Regions from separate parts of the Homo sapiens genome. Here all the other regions are reported to be linked to region 1. The links are microRNA targets in miRTarBase. Many come from high-throughput screens and were not tested one by one. Region 1 holds a microRNA gene; each other region holds the end of a gene's coding sequence.
The links. Region 1 holds the annotated microRNA hsa-miR-4720-3p (UGCUUAAGUUGUACCAAGUAU, at 5,256-5,276, opposite strand). A microRNA usually pairs through its seed, bases 2 to 8, with sites in the 3' UTR of a target mRNA and lowers its output. Matches are read on the target gene's strand: a 7mer-m8 pairs with bases 2 to 8, a 7mer-A1 pairs with bases 2 to 7 and ends in A, and an 8mer does both.

Region 2: miRTarBase lists PDS5A as a target of hsa-miR-4720-3p. Seed matches in the 3' UTR shown: 7mer-A1 at 6,271-6,277.
Region 3: miRTarBase lists COX6A1 as a target of hsa-miR-4720-3p. Seed matches in the 3' UTR shown: 7mer-m8 at 1,370-1,376.

What each region holds. Positions count from the first base shown.
Region 1 is chr16:81,383,141-81,390,338 of GRCh38, reverse strand. It overlaps MIR4720 (microRNA 4720), which reads right to left and starts at 5,321; the gene lies at 5,246-5,321. GAN (gigaxonin) reads right to left here. Exons shown (of 11, transcript NM_022041.4): 11 at 1-7,198. RefSeq lists a silencer at 3,271-3,465.
Region 2 is chr4:39,818,938-39,826,135 of GRCh38, forward strand. It overlaps PDS5A (PDS5 cohesin associated factor A), which reads right to left. Exons shown (of 33, transcript NM_001100399.2): 33 at 3,926-6,551. The coding sequence ends at 6,548. Among named protein-coding and RNA genes, the nearest start is that of UBE2K, 120 kb to the left of the region's middle. RefSeq lists an enhancer at 1,262-1,799.
Region 3 is chr12:120,439,259-120,446,456 of GRCh38, forward strand. It overlaps COX6A1 (cytochrome c oxidase subunit 6A1), which reads left to right. Exons shown (of 3, transcript NM_004373.4): 3 at 1,196-1,472. The coding sequence ends at 1,279. It overlaps TRIAP1 (TP53 regulated inhibitor of apoptosis 1), which reads right to left and starts at 7,126. Exons shown (of 2, transcript NM_016399.3): 1 at 6,968-7,126; 2 at 4,706-5,697. The coding sequence starts at 7,114. The coding sequence ends at 5,614. GATC (glutamyl-tRNA amidotransferase subunit C) reads left to right here and starts at 7,186. Exons shown (of 4, transcript NM_176818.3): 1 at 7,186-7,198. It also overlaps the pseudogene LOC124903126. RefSeq lists enhancers at 6,308-7,155, 6,467-7,198, 6,881-7,198, 7,028-7,198, 7,156-7,198.

The DNA.
Region 1 (7,198 bases):
AAGTGAACAGAAAATTATTCCACAAAACAAACTAGTACCTTTGGACCACAGGATGTGAGACGTGACATTTCAATGAAATCAACTTAGCACGACTTCTCTACTATCCTACTGAACTTGGGGAGTACAATTTTACAAGTTGCAGCCTTCTAGCACTTCCAATATTTTGAACTTTCTAAACCTGCCTATTTAGCTATGATTTTCATTGCAAATCCCTGTTTTTCAGTAGTAGGACTTTATTAAAGATAGGATAATATCACACACAATACAATCTTCACTGAATATGTGTCTAAGCAGACCTACTTGGAATTCTACTAGATAATAAAGTTGCAGGATTTAAAAGAAATACTATTCTGCAGGTCCCATGTCAGAAAACACAGATATGTTCAACAGATTGGTGTGGTATTTATATGGTATTCGTGGCATTTTCCTTATAGTATTCAAAGCATCAAAATGACAAATCAAGACTGTTAAAAACCAGTCTTGGACAAGGGTGACAGTCACATACTCGAGGGTCCAGCACAACACTGGCATGAGCCAACAGGAGCCACGCCGGCCACCTGCTGGGCCAGGGACCACTGCAAAGAGCAGCCCTGAATTTGGGAGGGTCAAATCGAATTTACAAATCTTGTTTTCAGGAATTTCCTTGATAGTTCTCTTTCATGGCAGAAGACCTATACCCGTGATGGAAAACAAAAGAATGTACACATTTCTAGTGTGTCATGAATGGGTCTCACTCACAGATAGGTACAGACATCACTGTCACTGCTAACACACAATGAAGTCTGCCTACGCCTACCTGAGGAGCATCCGCGATACCGTTTCTGATGAGGACAGGACTCTGCGGAGGTGGGCAGAGCAGGGGGTGCTTTTGTCAGCTCTGCTGGTCACTTCCAGGCTGCTGGTACACACCCCAACAGTGGCTGCAAAGATTGTTCAAAACTTCTGCTGAGGCCACAATGATTACGGGATGGTTGTCACAATTCACAAAAGGTATGATACAAAAAACAAAGGGTATCACCATTACGTCGCCGGCGAACTGAAGGGGTACAAGACCGAGGAACCAAACACAAGCTGAATTCAAAACGAAAAGAACCCCAGTGGCAGAAAAAGCCACGAATTATTTAATGAAGCAAGTTGTGCTAATAAACAGCCTGTGCTTTTCTTAACTGAAGGTCACTTGATACATTTCCCAACACACAATTTTTATTCAGATTATCTTTGTTTTCATGGAGAGCCTGAATTTTGAGGTACGATCTAGGAAAAAGATGTTATCACCCACACAAATGGAAGGCTCACTTCTTTACTTCTTAAGCTGATGATACCCTTTTGCCCGCCCCATGTACCAGATCCTACATGATTTTTTAAAATAAAACATAAGTCAATTTCAATGAGCATATGCTAGACTAACAATAAATTTATTTTTTGGAGTTTCTTTTGAAGCACAAATTCCTTTTAAAAAAAATATGAAAAGGTGGTCTCTCCTGGAAACAAGCAGTTCTAGTTTCCGATCCCACAACGATTTGGAACATAGTGTGTTTTTAAGTCAGAGCTGAAGAGGAAAGAAGGAAACAAGGGCTGCGCTCCGCTCTGGCGAATGCGAGCTGCAAAGGGACAGAGGAGGACCCACACGGAGGGTCCCCACCCGGCTCTGCGGACAGACATGGCAGAGGGCCTGTCACACAAGAGGCCACCGGGCCGAGCACGTCCGGGAGCCTGGGGCTGCACTGGGTGCTGAGGTAGTGAGCGGGGCCTGTGCCTGCCTGCCCTCCCGGCTTGGAGGGGGAGCCCTGAGGGCCTCTGGGGCTGGCCTGGAAGGTGTCATTCTAGCCTACAGGTGCCTAAGGCGCTGGGATGTGTCCTTGGCGGTGCCTCAGAAGGCACCTGGGTCCAAGTTCTGACCTGGAGCCTTGGGGACAGATCTGACTCTCACAGCCAGGGCCAGCTGGTTGTGGAAAGTGCTAGTATGCAGGTCTGCTCAGGGATCTGTGAGGCTCATGCTCTGGCCATTATGTGGTCTGAAGAACCAGAAGGGCTATTCTCCTCGCCCCCAACAACCCGCCCCAACTGCACCTTTCTTTTCCTTTTTATTTTGGATACATAATTCAAGCAGTAAAAAAACCAGGCTGGAAGAGGGTTGGGACAGAGGAGCAGAGGGCAGGGTGGGAAAGCTATCCCAAGAAGAGTGAGTAAAAACAACGACTCCGAACATGGCCAAAATACCCTTCCTCCACCTTGACGGCAATCCCTAAGCTGGCAGAGAAAGATGCGCCGACTGCGAAGTGCCTGTTTTCTCAGAGATTCCACCTAGCAGTGTCCATGGGGAGCCACAGTGGAACATGGAGAGAACAATCAAGGCTGGTTCAAACGAAAGGTTATTCACCAGTGAAAGAAACGGGGAGAAGACACAGCCGGCTAGCTCTGAAGACATGGTGTGCATCCCAGCCTATAAATCTCTAATGATCTTGATCCCGTGTTTCCCCTATTTCTGAGCAGACCTTTTTTTTTAATTTTTTATTTTTTTGTGAGACAGAGTCCCCCTCTGTCGCCCAGGCTGGAGTACAGTGGCACAATCCTGGCTCACTTCAACCTCTGCCTCCTGGGGTCAAGTGATTCTCCTCCCTCAACCTCCCGAGTAGCTGGGATTACAGGGGCCCACCAACACACTCGGCTAATTTTTGTATTTTTAGTAGAGACGGGGTTTCACCATGTTGGCCAGGCTAGTCTTGAACTCCTGACCTCAAGTGATCCACCTGCCTTTGCCTCCCAAAGTGCTGGGATTACAGGCGTGAGCCACTGCACCCGGCCTGAGCAGATCAAAAACAAGGCAAGAGGGGTCAGGACACACAGGCAGAGGCTCGTTCCCTCTCCTTCCAGAGCTGAGAATAAAACTGCAGTAGACTTTCACCAGGGAGGAGGACAAGACAAAACCATGACAACAATCAGGTCCCTTGGTGACGACGTGCCCCATCAGCAAGGCTACCCACCTACGGAGTGGGAAGGTTGCCGTGCCAACCTCCCCTAGGGCAGGAGAAACAACTGGCATATGTTCAAATGATCAATATCCCACCCCCCGCAACAAAACTTTTTTCTGAAATTTCATATAGCAACGTGCTTTCTTGAACCGAGACGTAAGACTTTACATTTAGCCATTACACTATGAAGAGTATTGCAGATCTAACACCCAACACATCTTGCCCAGCACTCTTCTTTGCCTTCTATATTTTTATTCAAGTTATGGATACAAATGTCAAACAGGATGCTGCTAGAGTAGCTCACCTTAAGTGATCTTGCCAAAGATCCGTTCTTGCCAACACTGTCTGAACCTGGCTATTCAGCCGACTTCTCGGTCCTTTGTTAAATCCTACTTCTACTTCCCTTTCTTTCTTTTCTTTTGAGATGGAGTTTAGCCCTTGTTGCCCGGCTGGAGTGCAACGGCACCATCTCGGCTCACCGCAACCTCCGCCTCCTGGGTTCAAGAGATTCTCCTGCCTCAGCCTCCCGAGTAGCTGGGATTACAGACATGTGCCACCATGCCCGGCTAATTTTGTATTTTTAATAGAGACGGGGTTTCTCCACGTTGGTCAGGCTGGTCTCAAACTGCCGACCTCAGGTGATCTGCCCGCCTTGGCCTCCCAAAGTCCTGGGATTACAGGCGTGAGCCACCGCGCCCGGCTGTTCTACTTCCTTTTCACATTCAGAGATCAAGAATGACTTTATCAAATGTCTTATTGAAATCAAGACAAGCTGAGCACATTATATACTCCTACCTCTGCCAGTCTCATAACCTAACCAGGAAAAGAAGTGTATGATACCATAGAAGGATTAAGTAGTTCACTGTTTGTACCACTTTGTTAAATAACCTTCTTTATGCAAAGGTACAAAAGTTCCACACACACAGACACATGCACAAACACACATGCACGTACACACAAGTACTTGTAACACATATTTGTTTGTTTTTAAGTTTCATGTAACATCCAAGTTAAGAAAGCACAGTTAGGTCTACTGGTCTAAAACAGAGATCTAGGAATTATCTCGTTTCTTTGACCAATACAGATTACTACCTTTGCTATTTCAATGAAAAAAAAGGAAAATTCAACTTTAGTAAAGAGTTTTAAGTATTATTAGAGAATTTCACTGGGCAAATTCTAAACAGAGGGTTATTTATAACAAACTCTAAGTATTCTAAACACATATTTTGGGCTGTTTCAGCTATCTAGAATTGTGTTGAATTTAAATACTAGAGATGTAGATGGAGAGAGGTGATATGGGTCTAGAAAGCAAATCATTTTCTGGCTGGATGCTCACACCTGTAATCCCAGCACTTTGGGAGGTTGAGGCAGGCGGATTGCCTGAGCTCAGGAGCTCGAGACCAGCCTGGGCAATATGGTGAAACCACACCTGTTCTAAAAATACAAAAAATTAGCTGGGCATACTGGTGTGCACTTGTAGTCCCAGCTACTTGGCAGGCCGAGGCAGGAGGATCCCTTGAGCCTGGGAGATGGCGCCACTGCACTCCAGCCTGGGTGACGGAGCGAGACTCCATCTCAAAAAAAAAAAAAAAAAAAAGTATTTTATGAACACCAACTTCTAATACATTTACTTGTATATCATGTGGCAGCAGACGTGAGAATGTGGAAAGCTATAAGGCCTGGGACACTCAGTGCAGGCAGCCTTGGCCTCATCCACAGGGCCTCCCACCACCCCATGTTGAGAGGTGACATAATCATGGTGGCAGCAACAGTGGTCACTGCACACAAGGCACTCTCCCAGCTGCTTACAGTCATCACCCAGTTAATCCTCACAACAACCCGCAGAGGTGAGTCCTCCTGCTATTCTTCTTCCACATAAGAAACGGAGCCTTGGGAGCCTTAAGAGCTTCCCAAGTCACAGAGTAGTAAGTGTGGCAGAAGCCCCCAAGCCCAGATGCACCTGCCACCAAGGCCTATGCTCTCAACCACTGGGTTTGTAAGGAAAGTATATAAAGATGATTGCCTGAAAATAATTAAAATAACAAAGTTTGGGGTTTAAGTTAAAGGAATAAGCCTTTGTTCTCATGGAAATCACTTCCAGGAAATGTCTCATGTCCTGAGCTAAGTCAGTCTCATGTCCTGAGCTAAGTCAACAGGGTGCTAACAGATTGTCATTGGAGGAGAAGCTTTGTCATTCTACTATTGAAAGCAAGCCCTTTACTCTGAAAAGCACAAGCATAAAAATTAAATCTTATTAATACACAACGACAGTTAAACTTGGCTATACTTGGTACAACTTAAGCACCAGATTTTACCTGGTGCTTAAGTTATACCAAATATGCCAGGCTTTTAGAAATGGGCATAACTCTTTTGGCCACGGCATCACTGAACTCCTCCATTTAAGTAGAATGTGTACAACTGTGCCCTGAAACTGGGCCATTATTACAAGATCTCCCGAGAGGAAGAGTCTTGCCTACAACTGGTGAGCCTCCTCATCTTCTTCCTCCTGACTTGGTGACCAGGCAAGCTGACAGACACTAGGGAGGATGGAGGCGACCACGTGTGGAGTGCAGAAGGCGCATACCGGAGGAAGGTGAGGGATGTTCCACAGATACATGGAACAAATCACATCATTCATGATTTTCAGTATCATCCAACTCTATATAGTTCTGCCAACCTCAACTCTGCACTGAGGAAACACTTTAAGTGAGGAGGATCTTAGCAATGAGTAGATTTTCATCAAAATTAAAGATTTCTGGGAAACAATAGCACCTTATAAGAAATGAAAAAAATAGTATCCTCAAGCACCCAAATCCCAAATACTGGGTCAGATGACAGATAGACACATTTTCTTGTCTGATGCTAACAAGAATGGAAATCGAGCCCCCTGTTTTACACAGCAGTGGCGTTTAAATAGACTACTTTTCTGCATTATGAAAACAGCCTTTTAAAGACTCTTTAAAGTTCAAGTTGAGTTTCAAGTAATCAGTTTGCAGCAACTCTAGGAGAATTATTATTCCTCCTGGTTGTAAGTGCTTTTTTTTCTTTTCTTTTTTTTTTTTTTTTAAGTAGTAAAATGGAAAACAGGCCTTAGAGAATTGTATTCCTCAAGGCCTCTGACTGCCTGCTTCCAAGCTTTTGTTAAAGAACAGAATGTGTTGAATTCTTCTCAATTGGCAGGGGATCAAGCACAATACTACATAATGAGGTAGCTGAGAACAGAGTTTTTCCTATAAACACAAAGAACAACTGAATAAGTGCATGTAATTCTCATCCAATTAAACAGGAAACATGATAAAGCAAGTTAGTACAGTTGTATTTAAACCAAGTTGACTGGTATAACTTGAAAAAATTTAACCCAAGTTTCTAAGGTATGCCTTATTCATAACTGATGAGTAAAAACAATAAAAATAAGGTACCCAAACCTATTACTTGTAATGAAATGCTAAAAATAAGATCCTAATAAATATAATTCACCAACCAGAAGACAGATGAACCTCCGTTTGGGATGTGAATGATTTGAAATGGCCGTTCATTTACGTGGATCCTATTCAGTGTCTACTCGTTCACTTCATCTTAAGGCCGTGTGTCCCCCGGACTCTGTGTGTTGCCATCCTTTTCCACCTGTTCCTTCTCTAATTCATATCACGACTGTACAATTTCTGGTTTTCTTTCAATGTGTGCACAGAAGGAAGCTCAACAACTTTGTTGAGCCAGGAAGAAATTATTATCAACATTTATAATCAGGCCAAATTTCAGCTGAGTAGTGACTTTAAAAGAATTAGTTTTAATCTCAAAATAAAAAAAAAAAAAGAGGGCAGGCGAGGTGGCTCACACCTGTAATCCAGCACTTTGGGAGGCTGAGGCGGGCGGATCACGAAGTTTAGGAGATCGAGACCATGCTGGCTAACATGGTGAAACCCCGTCTCTACTAAAAACACAAAAAATTCGCCGAGTGTGGTAATAAGCACCTGTAATCCCAGGTACTGGGGAGGCTGAGGCAGGATGATTGCTTGAACCCAGGAGGCGGAGATTGCAGTGAGCCGAGATCGCACCACTGCACTCCAGCCTAGGCGACAGAGCGAGACTCCGTCTCAAAAAAAAAAAAAAAAAAAAAAAAAAAAGAGAGGGCAACAGTCATTTCTGACTAAATAATTATATAATGTAGTTTTATTTATTTGATGTTTAATTTCATGAAAAGGGGAAGGGGTTTAAAAATCCAATCA
Region 2 (7,198 bases), not on the chromosome of region 1:
GCTTCGCGGGCTGCCTTGCTTTGGAGAAGTCCACTAAGCTCCTAAGGTGGCACAAAATTTGTCCAAAGGAGCCACAGGAATTACTGACACACAGAATTTGTGCTTTGAGTGGGGCGTGTCCCCTGTCCCTCAGGACTACAGTGGATAGAGAGGTTTCAGGGCTGGGACCAGCTCTTCCCCAGAGCAGGGAAGTTTAAGGCCCAGGGAGGTTTAAGGAGTGTTGGGATTCGCTGAAGTGGTGGCCTTCTTGTCTTTCCCCAGCCCTCAGCCTGGAGAGCCACCTCCAGCTTCAGGCCCAGCTCCTTGTGCCCTGAGGTAGGGCAGTTTGCTCAGGCCAGTCACTTCTTCTTTTTTTTTTTTTTTTTGAAACGGAGTTTTACTCTTGTTGCCCAGGCTGGAGTGCGGTGAGCGCGATCTTGACTCACCACAACCTCTGCCTCCCGGGTTCAAGCGATTCTCCTCTCAGCCTCCCAAGTAGCTGGGATTACAGGCATGTGCCAGCACATCTGGCTAATTTTGTATTTTTGGTAGAGATGGTTTCTCCATGTTGGTCAGGCTGGTGTTGAACTCCTGACCTTAGGTGATCCGCCCACCTCGACCTCCTAAAGTGCTGGGATTACAGGCGTGAGCCACTGCGCCTGGCCCAGTCACTTCTTTAGACACCTACATGCTCATAACAGTTCTCAGAATTGCACTTCAGTAGAAAAGGTGAGGATTTTCTGCTTCTACGGCATCCATCAGGGTTCTGAAGTCCACACAAAATGTATCACCTGGAACAGTCGCAGCTGCCTGTGTTATGTTGCTAGTCCTTGTAAGGCACCAATCCTGGTGTTTTTAATGTCGGCTCCTGGCATCGTGCCTAGTCTCTACAGATTACAAATGCCTGAAATGATGAAAAATGGCGACTCCCTATTTTCTAGTTGGCTTTTGCAGATCCAGAATCAGCACTACGGTGGCTCCTTACATGTCTTACTGACTTCTAGTGGTTTTTTTTGTATTAGTCCATTCTCATGCTGCTATAAAGAACTCCCTGAAGCTGGGTGCAGTGGCTCATGGCTGTAATCCCAGCACTTTGGGAGGCTGAGGCGGGTGGATCACCTGAGGTCAGGAGTTCGAGACCAGCATGACCAATATGGTGAAACCCCGTCTCTACTAAAAATACTACTACTCAGGAGACTGAGGCAGGAGAATCGCTTGAACCCAGGAGGCGGAGGTTGCAGTGAGCTGAGATCGCACCATTGCACTCCAGCCTGGGCAACAAGAGCAAAACTCCGTCTCAAAAACAAAAAAACAAAACAAAACAAAAGAAAACAAAAGCCTGCCTGAGACTGGGTAATTTAGAAAGGAAAGGTTTAATTGACTCAGTTCCGGATGGCTGGGGAAGCCTCAGGAAACTTAATCATGGTGGAAGGGGAAAGGGAAGCAAGGCACTTCTTATACGGCAGCAGGGGAGAGCCAGAGCAAGGAAGGGCCACACCTTTTAAACCATCAGATCTCATGAGAACCACTATCAAGAGAACAGCATGGGGGAAACCGCCCCAGATTCAATCACCTCCCACTAGGTCCCTCCCTCGACATGTGGGGGATGGCAATTTGAGATGAGATTTGGGTGAGGACAAAGAGCCAAACCATGTCACTATTCAAGCTTCTTCAGGAAGAATGGATGTAGTGCTATTTACTAAAAATAACAGGTTTTATTCAGAATGACACGGTCCTTGCTCAAGAACAACAGGAGTAACCAGAGAATGAGGGGAGATAAGTTAGCAATCAGTATTGATAAAGAAACATTTGAGAAACACCCCAAAACTGAAGTACTGATCAGCAGCCTGGCCCAGGTTCCTTAGAAATGAGACCTGTATATGTTCCCGTTAGGCTTTTTTTTCTTTGACACAAGGTCTTGGTCACCCAGGCTGGAATGCAGTGGTGTGATCTCAGTTTACTGCAGCCTCTGCCTCCTGGACTCAAGCAATCGTCCCACCTCAGCCTCCCGAGAAGCTGGGAAAACAGGCACGCACCACCATGCCTGTCTTATTTTTTTAATTTTTTGGTAGAGATGGGTTGTATGTTGCCCTGCTAAGACTTTGAACTATGATACAATAGTGAAATAAATGAAGGTTATTACTCTCATGGGAATGAAAAGTTGAAGGTATGGTTTACAGCAGAAAGGCACTTGATTCTGCACTCTCATTTCCATCCTCCCTACCTTGCTGGCTTATAGCGAACTCCTTGTAGGAAATGCTGTCACCGTTACCTAAGCAGGCTACAAAGCTGCTTGTCAGAGCAGGACAGTTCATGTGAGTAGCAAAGACAAAAAAGTCTTGTCAGTGCAAGTATTGGGGGTGGAAGGTCAACCCATTATGGGTAAAATACAAAACTAGGCATGATAGCTTTTCCTTTTTTTTTTGAGACAGGGTCTCAGCCTGTCACTCAGGCTGGAGTGCAGTGGTGCAAAATGTACGTTTCAGGCCTTTATTTACTTATTTTGAGACGGAGTCTCGCTCTGTTGCCCAGGCTGGAGTGTAGTGGCACAATCTTGGCTCACTGCAACCTCCGCCTCCCTGGTTCAAGCGATTCTCCTGCCTCAGTCTCCCGCGAAGCTGGGACTACAGGCGTGCGCCAGTATGCCTGGCTAATTTTTTTTATCTTTAGTAGAGACAGGGTTTCACTATGTTGACGAGGCTGGTCTCAAACTCCTGACCTCAGGTGATCTGCCTGCCTCAGCCTCCCAAAGTGCTGGGATCACAGGTGTGAGCCACCGTGCCCAGCCTATTATTTTTGAGACAGTTTCATTCTTATTGCCCAGGCTGGAGTGCAATGGCGCAATCTCGGCTCACCACAACCTCCGCTTCCCAGGTTCAAGTGATTCTCCTGCCTCAGCCTCCCACGTAGCTGGGATTACAGGCATGCGCCACCAAGTCTGGCTAATTTTTTTGTATTTTTATTCAAGACGGGATTTCTCCATGTTGGTCAGGCTGGTCTCGAACTCCTGACCTCAGGTGATCCACCTGCCTCAGCCTCCCAAAGTGCTGGGATTACAGCCATGAGCCACCACGCCTGGCCTATTTATTTTTGAAACAGTTTTGCTCTGTTGCCCAGGCTAGAGTGCAGTGGTGTGATCTTGGCTCACTGCAACCGACGACTCCCAGGCTCAACGGATTCTCCCACCTCAGTCTCCTGAGTAACTGGGACTACAGGTGTGCACCACCACACTCGGCTGATTTTTGTATTTTCGGTAGAGACAGGGTTCACCATGTTGCCCAGGCCAGTCTTGAACTCTTTAGGTCAAGTGACCTACCTGCCTCGGCCACCCTCCCAAAGTGCTGGGATTAAAGGTGTGACTCACTGCGCCCAGCCATGATAGACTTTCTTACCTCTCGTTCTGGTCACCTCTTACTCCAGATACATTTATGTAATCTGCTTGCTCTCTTGAATTTGTTATGGAACTAAATATGTGAGTGCAGAACTTGCAATGAATGGATGAACCATAGACTAATATGAATCAAAGGCTGCTATTAAATTCTTAGGTTAAAAAAATAACTTCTTGGCCAGGTCTGGTGGCTCAGGCCTGTAATCCCAGCACTTTTCTAGGAGCCTGGGGCAGGAGGATTGCTACAGTGAGCCATGATCATGTCATTGCACTCCAGCCTGGGCAACAGGGTAAGATCTCATTTCAAAAAAAAAGCCACCCCCTAAAACAAACCTCGTTTGGAAATTCCGAATGTGCCTCAGAATTTATCATCCACTATGTTCTTCCTTAGCCACTGTAAGCTACCTCAGAGTACCCAGCCAGGAAGTTTGAAGGTGGCTTTTGATTTCTAATTAGGATATTCAGACTCCAGCATCTCAACAGAAAATATGCAGAGACATTTTATCAACTTGTGACATACCAGGGGTACATGAATATTCAGGGCTCCACACTACTATATAATGCTGCATTTCTTGGTTTTATTTGAAACAGTGCATATTTTTAGCATTTTATGGTAGGATTTTACACTTGTCATTTACACAAATTACAAGGTTCTGCTTCAAGTTTTTAAAAAAAATTTAAAAATTCAGCCCATGTGCAGCACAAGAATATGCAAAACTACTTTACATTATACACACTTTTTATCAAAGGAGATACAAAATTCTGGCTTGTTGTTTTAGACAAATACAAGAAGCTTCAAACTAGACACAAAGGGTTAACATTAATTCTCAAATATAAGTCTGCACTTTTGTGTTGTAGTTCTCTGAGATGTGAATACCAAATTCCTAAGGGATTTTAATGTTTTCCTTTGAAAAGGAAAACTAAAAAAATTCCCGTAAACAAGTCCCTCCCCATCAGCTTGGTCTTTCCACAACCCTACTCTTGCTTCCCTTAGTGCCAGACACTTGCATCATGTTACAAAATTGGGGTGGGCCACTTACATCATACAAGGAGCAAATCCTTTTAACTTCTCTCCTGCAAAAATCTAAACAGGAATATATTGATGCAGATGGTTCTGCTACATTTTATTTAATATGATGTAACACTTGGTAATCTAGTAAACTGTGATGCCGGGCAATTAATCAAAGGGAGGAAGAGACAAAGGTCCCTATCAATGCACTTTTTGTTGGTGACACACTGGAAACCTTAGGAATCAAGTTGTCTGATGCTAAGAGAACTTTAAACTCTCTCTAAATAGAACACACCTACTGATTGCTTGAGGGACTTCTCTGATACTTATGCATAGATACTCTTTTTCAGCATGTTGGAGGCAATATTTTATACTTTCTAAAGGGTTCTGAAGAGGCAATAAGGAAGAGTGGGGATTTTTCTGCCCCTGTAAAGGTATCATTTTCTATCATTGGTATCCATTGTTCCCTAAGCATCTTCTGATACCTAAATGTGTGTAAATGCATATTTAAAATAATTACCCATCTTTCAGTCAATACACAGCCAACTCTTGATTATCTATGAGAAACGTAAGTGACATTTACTCTCAAACTTCACTCTAACAGAATCATCCACCTTTGATACACTTGTTTGTTTTACATCCCATGTACACTACAGCCTATCAAGACGAAGTTATAACACAAATGTTGTTTCCTCTGACCCATGCTAGAAACGTGTAAGGAAATGGAGTGAGCACATTCTGCTAGGGCTTTGCGGATGACCCTACAGTGGACAGTGGGGGCAGGATAGAACTCTGGACATGAGAAAAGACAAATTTCATGTTCCTCCAGAATCAGGTCTTACATGCCTTCGTTATTTTGTTATCACAAAATTAAAAACCTGAGGCTTAGTCACTATTTTATATAGATAATGGAGAGTTGACTGTAATCATGTTATGACTTTAGCTCTTTAACATGAAAAAATTCACAAGAAAGCATATGATAAAAAGATTAAAAAGACTGCCATGACATCTAGAAGCATTTATTTTATGCAAAAAACTTAAATATGATTATGTGTACACATAAAGTGCACACATTACCTATGCTGAACAATGCCAAGAAACATAATATATTGATGCAACAGTTTTCTAAAATAAACATAAAAATGAGCCCAGACCATCAGACAAAAGCAAAACACTTATTTCCAAATAGCACAATGCTGAAAATTGATAGCAATCCTAAAACACCTCCAACTTTCCTTAAAAGCTGCCAAAGTCCAACTATTTTTTAAAAATTGATTTTTTTTACATTAATAAAAATCTGGTGACAAACATTATAAAACCAAATGCTGGACAGTCTTTACTCCTTTAAAATTCCAAATATTCCAACATAATCACAGGAGTAAAAACCATTTTAAAGTGATATGCTTTATGAAACAAACAACAATATGTACATTTATTGCAAATTATATTAAACTAAAATGAGGGGAAATCAAAATATGAACTGTTTACTACTTGCAAATCAATAATTTTAATTTTCTCACTCTGATAAAAATCAGAAAGCAACATTTATAAAATTGCTACCACATCACTTTTCATAGCAGGGAACCGAAATCTGTACATCTCATTTTTGCAGAAAAGTAGGCAGGCAGAAAGAATTATACATAAAAGTTTCCAAAAGGAAAAACAAAGAAATATTTAATCTGATCTCTTTTCTTTTAAAAAATTAATTCAGTAGACTTCTATTTTTTCCTGTGTAACATGGGAATTCCTGGCTCTAAAATGGATGAATTTTCAGTGTCAGTGTAAAGACATCTTGTTACTTTCTTTAAAATAAAAACTGCAGCGTGGAAATTAATGGTGTATTACGCATTTAAACTCCAGATAGGCAGGAACTGGAACCAAGTGTTAAGCAATTTGCTTAATTATTGACTTTTCGTAAGAAAAGTCTAGGGGAAGGGGGAGAACAGAGTTGCTTTTAGCCTCTCTCTCAAGAGTTTCTGCTGTACATTTCCATCAGAGGACTTGTGGTCATGTGAAAAGGAAGTAATAGTCTCTTTAGTTTTCAAGGCAGAGAGTGTGTGTTCTGAAGTGAGCTTCATTTTCTGTTCAGGGACATTTGTGAATCCAAGTTTTTGCAGAAGCTGGAGCCTGCTTCTGTTTGGCCTTCATTTTCTCCCTTTGCAAATGCATTTTTACCTTAGGGTTAAGAATAGAACGCAAAGTTAGAAAAGATGTGGAGAAGATATAAACCAAACGAAAATGATTTCATTTCCATAGTTGTTATCTAAAATCTTTTTTTTTTTTTTTAAACTTAAGCATCAGGATCTCACTCTGTCACTCAGGCTGAAGTACAGTGGCACGATCATGGCTCACTCAGCCCCAACTCCTGGGTTCAAGTGGTCCTCCAGGCTCAGCGTCCAGCCTGAGCCTCCCAAATAGCTAGAACTATAGGCGCACACCACCATGGCTGGCTAATTTTTAAATTATTTGTACAGACGGGATCTCATTATGTTGCCCAGGCTGGTCTTCAACTCCTGAGCTCAAGCGATCTGGGAAGCCTGCGCTTCTCAGATTCACTACTGGGATTACAGGCATGAGTCACTGTGCTTGGCATGTTATCTAAAATCCTTAAAAAGTTTTTTCATTTTTTCACCTGAAACTTGGTTTAAAGAGCCTTTCCCTAAACTATATAAAAACCAAACACCAATAAAGAAGTTTTTGTTTTCAATGACTTAGTGCTGCTATCCAATGCCCTATTTGCTTACAACATTAAAAGCTATTTATCATACTATGGCAAAATGAATTTATAAGCAGCAAAATAACTTCTGACTCATGAGCTGGGT
Region 3 (7,198 bases), not on the chromosome of region 1:
GCTCACGCCTGTAATCCCAGCACTTTGGGAGGCCAAGGTGGGTGGATCGCCGGAGGTCAGGAGTTCAAGACCAGCCTCGTCAACATGGCGAAACACTATCTCTACTAAAAGTACAAAAAGTAGCCGGGCGTGGTGGCGGGCGCCTGTAATCCCAGCTACTCGGGAGGCTGCGGTGGGAGAATCTAGGAGGTTGAACCCAGGAGGAGGAGGTTGCAGTGAGCCAAGATCCAGCCATTGCACTGCAGCCTGGGCAACAGGAGTGAAACTCCGTCTCAAAAAAAAATAGTAATAATATACTTGATCTTAGCCAAAAGGCCGAGAAGTGATGAAAAAAGTTATTATTATTATTATTATTATTACATCACCTAGCCCATATAGGACTGGCCTTGTAGAAACTTAACCTAGACTCTTGAATTTGTTGAGTCTTTGAGCGGCACTCCCATCCTTGTACAATGCAATTAGAAGCCAAACAGTAAAGGTTTCTCAGCCTCAGCACTGTTGACATTTGGGGCTGGGTAATTCTTGTTGGGGGGCTATCTTGTGCATTGTGAAATGTTTAGCCATATCCTTGGCCTGTACCCACTAGGTGGCAGTAGTACCTGCGCAACCCCACTCCCGCTTCCCCCTCCCCCGCCCCCATCACAGTGTCTCCCGATACTACCCAGTGTGCCCTGAAGGGGCAAAATCACCCTGGGTTGGAGACCGTTGCCCTAAAGTAATGCTTTTCAAAGGTAATAGGCAAGATAATTCAGGGTGGGCTGCAGTTTCCCAGCCCAGATATTGTTTGAAGTCTGGGATGGTGCCAGAAATCTGCATTTAATTAAGCATCTCCCTCCCCTAATACTGCCACCATTTTGATATAGGTGATTTGAGGATTACACTTTCATAAACACAGCACTGGATATACTAGTTACTAGGGAGAGGATGATGAGTAACTAACTTGAGCTTGCATTTTCTGCCATCCATATTTGTTTCTGGAATTAAAACTGTCCTGTAGCCAGGATAACTTTAAGGGCTCCCCTGGTAGTTATAAGAGCTCCTTAAATAATGGGAAGGTTGAACTACACCAGTAGATAAAGGACTAATTTCCATTTTGTTTTTATATATGATCTGTCACCCCGTTATAAGCAGTTCATGACGGTGTTCTTTCTAAATTATTTTCTGGAATTATCTAACTGACATCTTCACTCCACAGCCGTTTCCCTGGGGAGATGGTAACCATACTCTATTCCATAACCCTCATGTGAATCCACTTCCAACTGGCTACGAAGATGAATAAAGAGAATCTGGACCACTACCCGGGCACCAGGGACCACAGCACTGGTTTGGACCGTTACTCTGCACATGGACCAGAAAAAGTATATGGGACCTTAAGCTCACCTTCTTTACTTGTATCAAATGATGACTGGTATACTGGTCTCCCATCCCTTTGCTTGTGGCAGGAGATGGCTTAAATAAATAACTTAAATTTAGATTGGTCATGAGCTGAGAGTTACTTTCTTTGGTTGTGTTTTTTCGCAGAAATTAGCATTTGAGCTTCAAGTCAGTGTCCAAGTTGAAAAGAAATTGGCATTAGTTATTTCTGTTTCCACAGTGAAGGTCTAGGCTGCTGTTTAGTGTTACAGGTCCAATTCAGCCCATTGAATAAGTGTTTATAACAGCCCCTCTTGGTTTATTGTGCCTGATGTGGATAAAGGGACCAAGTGGAGTGGTGCTAATTAAGCATCAAGATTAGTCCTTGGTCAGGTGCGGTGGCTCATGCCTGTAATCCCAGCACTTTGGGAGGCTGAGGCTGGCAGATCACCTGAGGTCAGGAGTTGGAGATCAGCCGGGCCAACATGATGAAATCCTGTCTCTACTAAAAATACAAAAATTAGTTGGGTGTGGTGGCGCACTCCTATAGCTGGGTGTAGAGGCTTGAACCCGGGAGGTGGAGGTTGCAGTGAGCCAAGATCGTGCCACTGCACTCCAGCCTGGGCAACAGAGTGAGACTCTGTCTCAAAAAACAAAAGATTGGTCCTTGACGGGCCTGAGATATCAAAGACATTGAATGGCTAGCAGAATGCCTGCAATTTACACCTGAAAGAGGTATCTGTATTTCTCAAGAGGAAGTGCTTGATCTGGGTCTCATCTTTTTCCTGTCCCATTCCACTAGCATTTACTGCAGAATCTTCCCTGTAGTCATAATTTTCTTGAACATGTCAAGTTCTTTTTTTTCTTTTTTTTTGAGACGGAGTCTCTCTCTGTTGCCCAGGCTAGAGTGCAGTGGCACGATCTCCACTCACTGCAAGCTCTGCCTCCCAGGTTCAAGCCATTCTCCTGCCTCAGCCTCCCGAGTAGCTGGGACTATAGGCACCCGCCACCACACCCAGCTAATTTTTTGTATTTTCAGTAGACACAGGGTTTCACCATGTTAGCCAGGATGGTCTCGATCTCCTGACCTCGTGATCCACCCGCCTCAGCCTCCCAAAGTGCTGGGATTACAGGCGTGAGCCACCGTGCCTGGCCTCGAATGTGTCAAGTTCTTACTTTGAGGTAATCTCCTTCAGGGCTGGTAGGGTCAGAAATCTTAAGAGAAACAAAGGGAGCGTGACACATTTCTGCTTATTGGCTTTTCTGTGGAATTAAAACTATCCTGCTTTAATGGATAGTAAATGGTAGTAGTAGTAGTTACAAAACCACTCTGAGAGGGCAATTATTATTATTATTATTATTATTATTTTTTTTTTTTTTTTTTTTTTTTTGAGATGGAGTCTCGCTCTGTCGCCCAGGCTGGAGTGCAGTGGCGGGACCTCGGCTCACTGCAAGCTCCACCTCCCGGGTTCACGCCATTCTCCTGCCTCAGCCTCCCAAGTAGCTGGGACTACAGGCGCCCGCCACTACGCCCGGCTACTTTTTTGTATTTTTAGTAGAGACAAGGTTTCACATGTTGGCCAGGCTGGTCTTGAACTCCTAACCTCAGGTGATCTGCCCACCTCAGCCTCCCAAAGTGCTAGGATTACAGGTCTGAGCCACTGTGCCTGGCCAGAGCTGGTTTATTTTATTTTATTTTATTTTTTGAGACAGAGTTTCGCTTTTGTTGCCCAGGCTGGAGTGCAATGGCATGATCTTGGCTCACCACAACCTCCACCTCCCAGGTTCAAGCAATTCTCCTGCCTCACCCTCCTGAGTAGCTGTGATTACAGGCATGTGCCACCACACCTGGCTAATTTTTTGTATTTTAAGTAGAGATGGGGTTTCTCCATGTTGGTCAGGCTAGTCTCAAACTCCCAACCTCAGGTGATCTGCCCACCTCAGTCTCCCAAAGTGCTGGGATTACTGGCGTGAGCCACCGCGCCCAGCCAGCTGGTTTATTCTTAAGGCTCAAAGGAACACTTTCGTGGTAAGGTTCAAGAGGCAACAAGGTATTTCATATTATATTACATTAAACTGGTAACGCAAAAGTAAGGCATATACAGTACGGAATAGAGAATCTCATTGTCTTTGCCATTTTGTAATAATTAACGGAATAGAGAATCTCATTGTCTTTGCCATTTTGTAATATTACAGCCTGCACTTCTGAGTCCCTATAGAGCTGTTTTGGTTGTGGCCAGTCTGAGTTTAGGACAGATGCATTATACTTCAGCTTGCTGCCTGGCCTCCCTTGGCTGGGTTCCAAACATCTTTTATAATCCTTGGATAATGGACCCTAGCCAGTCATAAAATATAAATGAAGAATGTTTTGAAATGACATTAAGGACAAGTCACATTAAATATGATGTAGCAATTGGTAAAGTGGAGAAAAGACAATAGAATTAGGGCCTTCTATAAATCAAGTTTCTTGGTTTATTTTTCAGACAGGGTCTTGCTGTGTCACCCAGCCTGGAGTGCAGTGGTACAATCACAGCTCACTGCAGTCTCCACCTCTCAGGCTCAGGTAATTCTCCCACCTCAGCCTTTAGAGTAGCTGGGACTACAGGCACACACCACCATACCCAGCTAATTTTTTTGTAGAGACAGGGTTTCGCTATGTTGCCCAGGCTGGTCTCAAATTCCTGAGCTCAAGTGATCCGCCCATCCCAGCTTCCCAAAGTGTTAAGACTACAGGCATGAGCCACCATACCCGGCCTGTAATTCAAGTTTCATACTACTTTGGGTATCTAATAAAACCAAATTACTCAATTAATTGTGGGGATTACGTGACATTCTGAGGTAAGTAAGTGCTCTCCTGATCCTTTTTTGGTACCGTAGTGTATTTGTATAGCCTATTGTGGAAATTTTAGAAATCAGTGAGGTTTTGGCTGGGTGCGGTGGCTCATGCCTGTAATCCCAGCACTTCGGGAGGTCAAGAGTTCAAGACCAGCCAACATGGTGAAACCCCATCTCTACTAAAAATACAAAAACTAGCTGGGCATGGTGATGCATGCCTGTAATCCCAGCTACTTGGGAGACTGAGGCAGGAGAATCATTGGAACCCAGGAGGTGGAGTTTGCAGTAAGACAAGATTGCGCCACTGCACTCCAGCCTGGGTGACAGAACCAGACTGTCTCAAAAAAAAAAAATGTGAGGTTTCTGATTGCCATACTGTACCACCTAGCTTAAGACAAGTCACTTTTTCTTCACCTTTAAGTTACAAAACACAAAACTCTCCCCACTGTATATATGAGGTTTGTAGGGTAACAGGGTAATAGTTCCATAAAATGCACTGAGTTCCAGAGGCAAATAATGATAGAAACTAAATGTTACAATTTATTCCATCTTCAGGATTACAGACATTACAGGGCAGGATGAGTAAACAAGGCAAATGAAGCGAGCACCTTCAGCTTCCCCCCTACCCCGACATTTAACCAGATGCAGCATTTTGACATTTTTAGGATATGCAGGTTGACAATTCACTGACTTGGGTTGAGAGCTGGCAATAGCAGATCTTTGCAATTTAGGTTCTTCCTCCACAGCTATTCCAAGTATCTTAATTCCTGAACTGCACACTGAGAGCTCTGAAATGGTGTTCACTGCAACATTCTTGCAGCTTTCACATCTTAATCTGACACCTCTTGTGAAGGCAGGGAACTGTGTTAAAAGCTGTCTTCCTCTTTGCTAATCCAGGCCACCATCAATCTTAACCATTAGTTACTATATAAAAATAAAAGTGTGCTCAAAAGCACTCACTGAAACTGTTGTGCCCAGATCCCTTTTCAGAGCATTAGTTCCCTGAGAGGAAAAAAAGAGGTCCTAACCAATTGCTTTCATAAATAGTGACCCCAGTACAGTGTATATGTCTTTTGCAGCAGAAATCAAGAGGTCAGGCAGCTCTGCTCATCCTGACTAGTTTATCATCGTTTGCATACAAGGTATATTTATGTAAAGCTGATTCCACGCCAAGTATTGCAACCATAATCTCAAAAAAATTGTTCAATTTTAGCACACAGTTCCTGCAAGATACCACAGCAGGTGAGAAATCATCTCAAAGAGTTCATCTTTTACAACTGAGAGGAAAACATCGAAGGAGGAAATAAAACTCCTCTCTCCTAAGTTCCTCATCAAATCTGATGGCTATGTTCACAGAGTTAGTTGACAAAAATCCAGAGTCCTCAATTTCTGGACTTGCGAAATCCTTCAAGGTGACTGTCAAGGTCAAGAAGAATTTTCAGGCTTTTCTTTGCCATGGCCCATGAACTCCAGTCCTTCAATAGGAATCTCTTTCTCCTTTATTGCTTTCTGGTAGGAGGAGAAAACACATTATAAAGACCTACATGAAGCTTAAGTTGCAAGCTTTGTAAATAAAATATGACAGTACAAAAGTAAAATCAAGCTGATTATAAAGACTTATAACCATGATTCAAACCACATACTTTTTAAAAAACAAGTACCGGTCAGGTGTGGTGGCTCACGCCTATAATCGCAGCATTTTGGGAGACCAAGGCAGGTGGATCACTTGAGGCCAGAAGTTAGAGACCAACCTGGCCAACATGGCGAGACCCTGTTTATACTAAAAATACAAAAATTAGCTGGGCATGGTGGCGCATGCCTGTAAGCCCAGCTACTCGGGTGGCTGAGGCATGAGAATAGCTTGAACCTGGGAGGCGGAGGTTGCAGTGAGCTGAGATTGTGCCATTGCACTCCAGGCTGGGAGACAGAGTGAGACTCTGCCTCAAAAATAAATAAAAACCAGAAGTACCATAATGAATAAATCAAGTGTAAGACCTGAGGGAGACTGGAAAAGGAGTTGTGAGGGAACCGTTAAAATTAAGTGAAATTTGAAAAATAATCATCACTTTGTGTTAGTGAAAGACTTAGGTTCAAATCTGGGTTCCAGGACTTACTGGCTATGTGACTAACTGTAAATGGGATGAAGACAGCAACTACCTCGGGGAATTGCTGTGAGGATGTGTTGGGTTAACTTATTGGAAGTGCTTTGCCCGGTGCTGTTCTTAACAATTCAAAGCAGTTCCACATCCATTGGGCCAGAATAAACATTTCCTGGCTGCAGTTGCGGGGACTGGTCAAGAGAGAGAAACAGGCTAACGAAGGGTTTATAACAACAAAAAAATGTGACCCTCCAGTCTGAATTCTGAAGTATAATCCCGCCCAGACCCCAGCAGTAATAGTGGAAAAGTGCACCACCTGCGAAAGAACCAAGGAAACCTGATGCTAGTGAACTCGGATTAATCACTTCCTATTTCTGGGTGTTAGTTTTTTATGTATAAAATATGAGTAACTATGCCCACCTTGCGAGTTTAGGGTGAACACCAAATGAACCAAAGGATGTGACTGTGCTTCTTGAAAAGCACTGCCCCAATATTTGTCATTCGGAGAGACACCCAAGTGGCCTCGGTGGTGATGGTAGGGGAGCGAGCTCCTGCCACTGGCCTCACTGCGACTTTTCTCCACCCTTCCAGTCCAGTCCCAATCCCCGTAAAATACGATGAGTGTGGTGGGACACAGCGCCGAGAATGCAGGGCCTGGGAACAGAGGCGGGAGGGCTCACCTGAACACACTGCTGGTAGCGCTTGAAGAGGTCGGTGCACGGGTCCCCGGAGCTGTCCCCCTTGAGAAATTTCTCGGCGAACCAGCGATTGAAGCACTGGTCGTACTCGCGCTTCATGTCCGTGCATGCCTCCCCCACACTGTTCATGGCGACAGTGGTGGCGGCGGCGACGACGGCGCACTCTGATGTCATCACTCTCAGGCGCGTCGCTCGGCGTTACGCGCGGGCGCA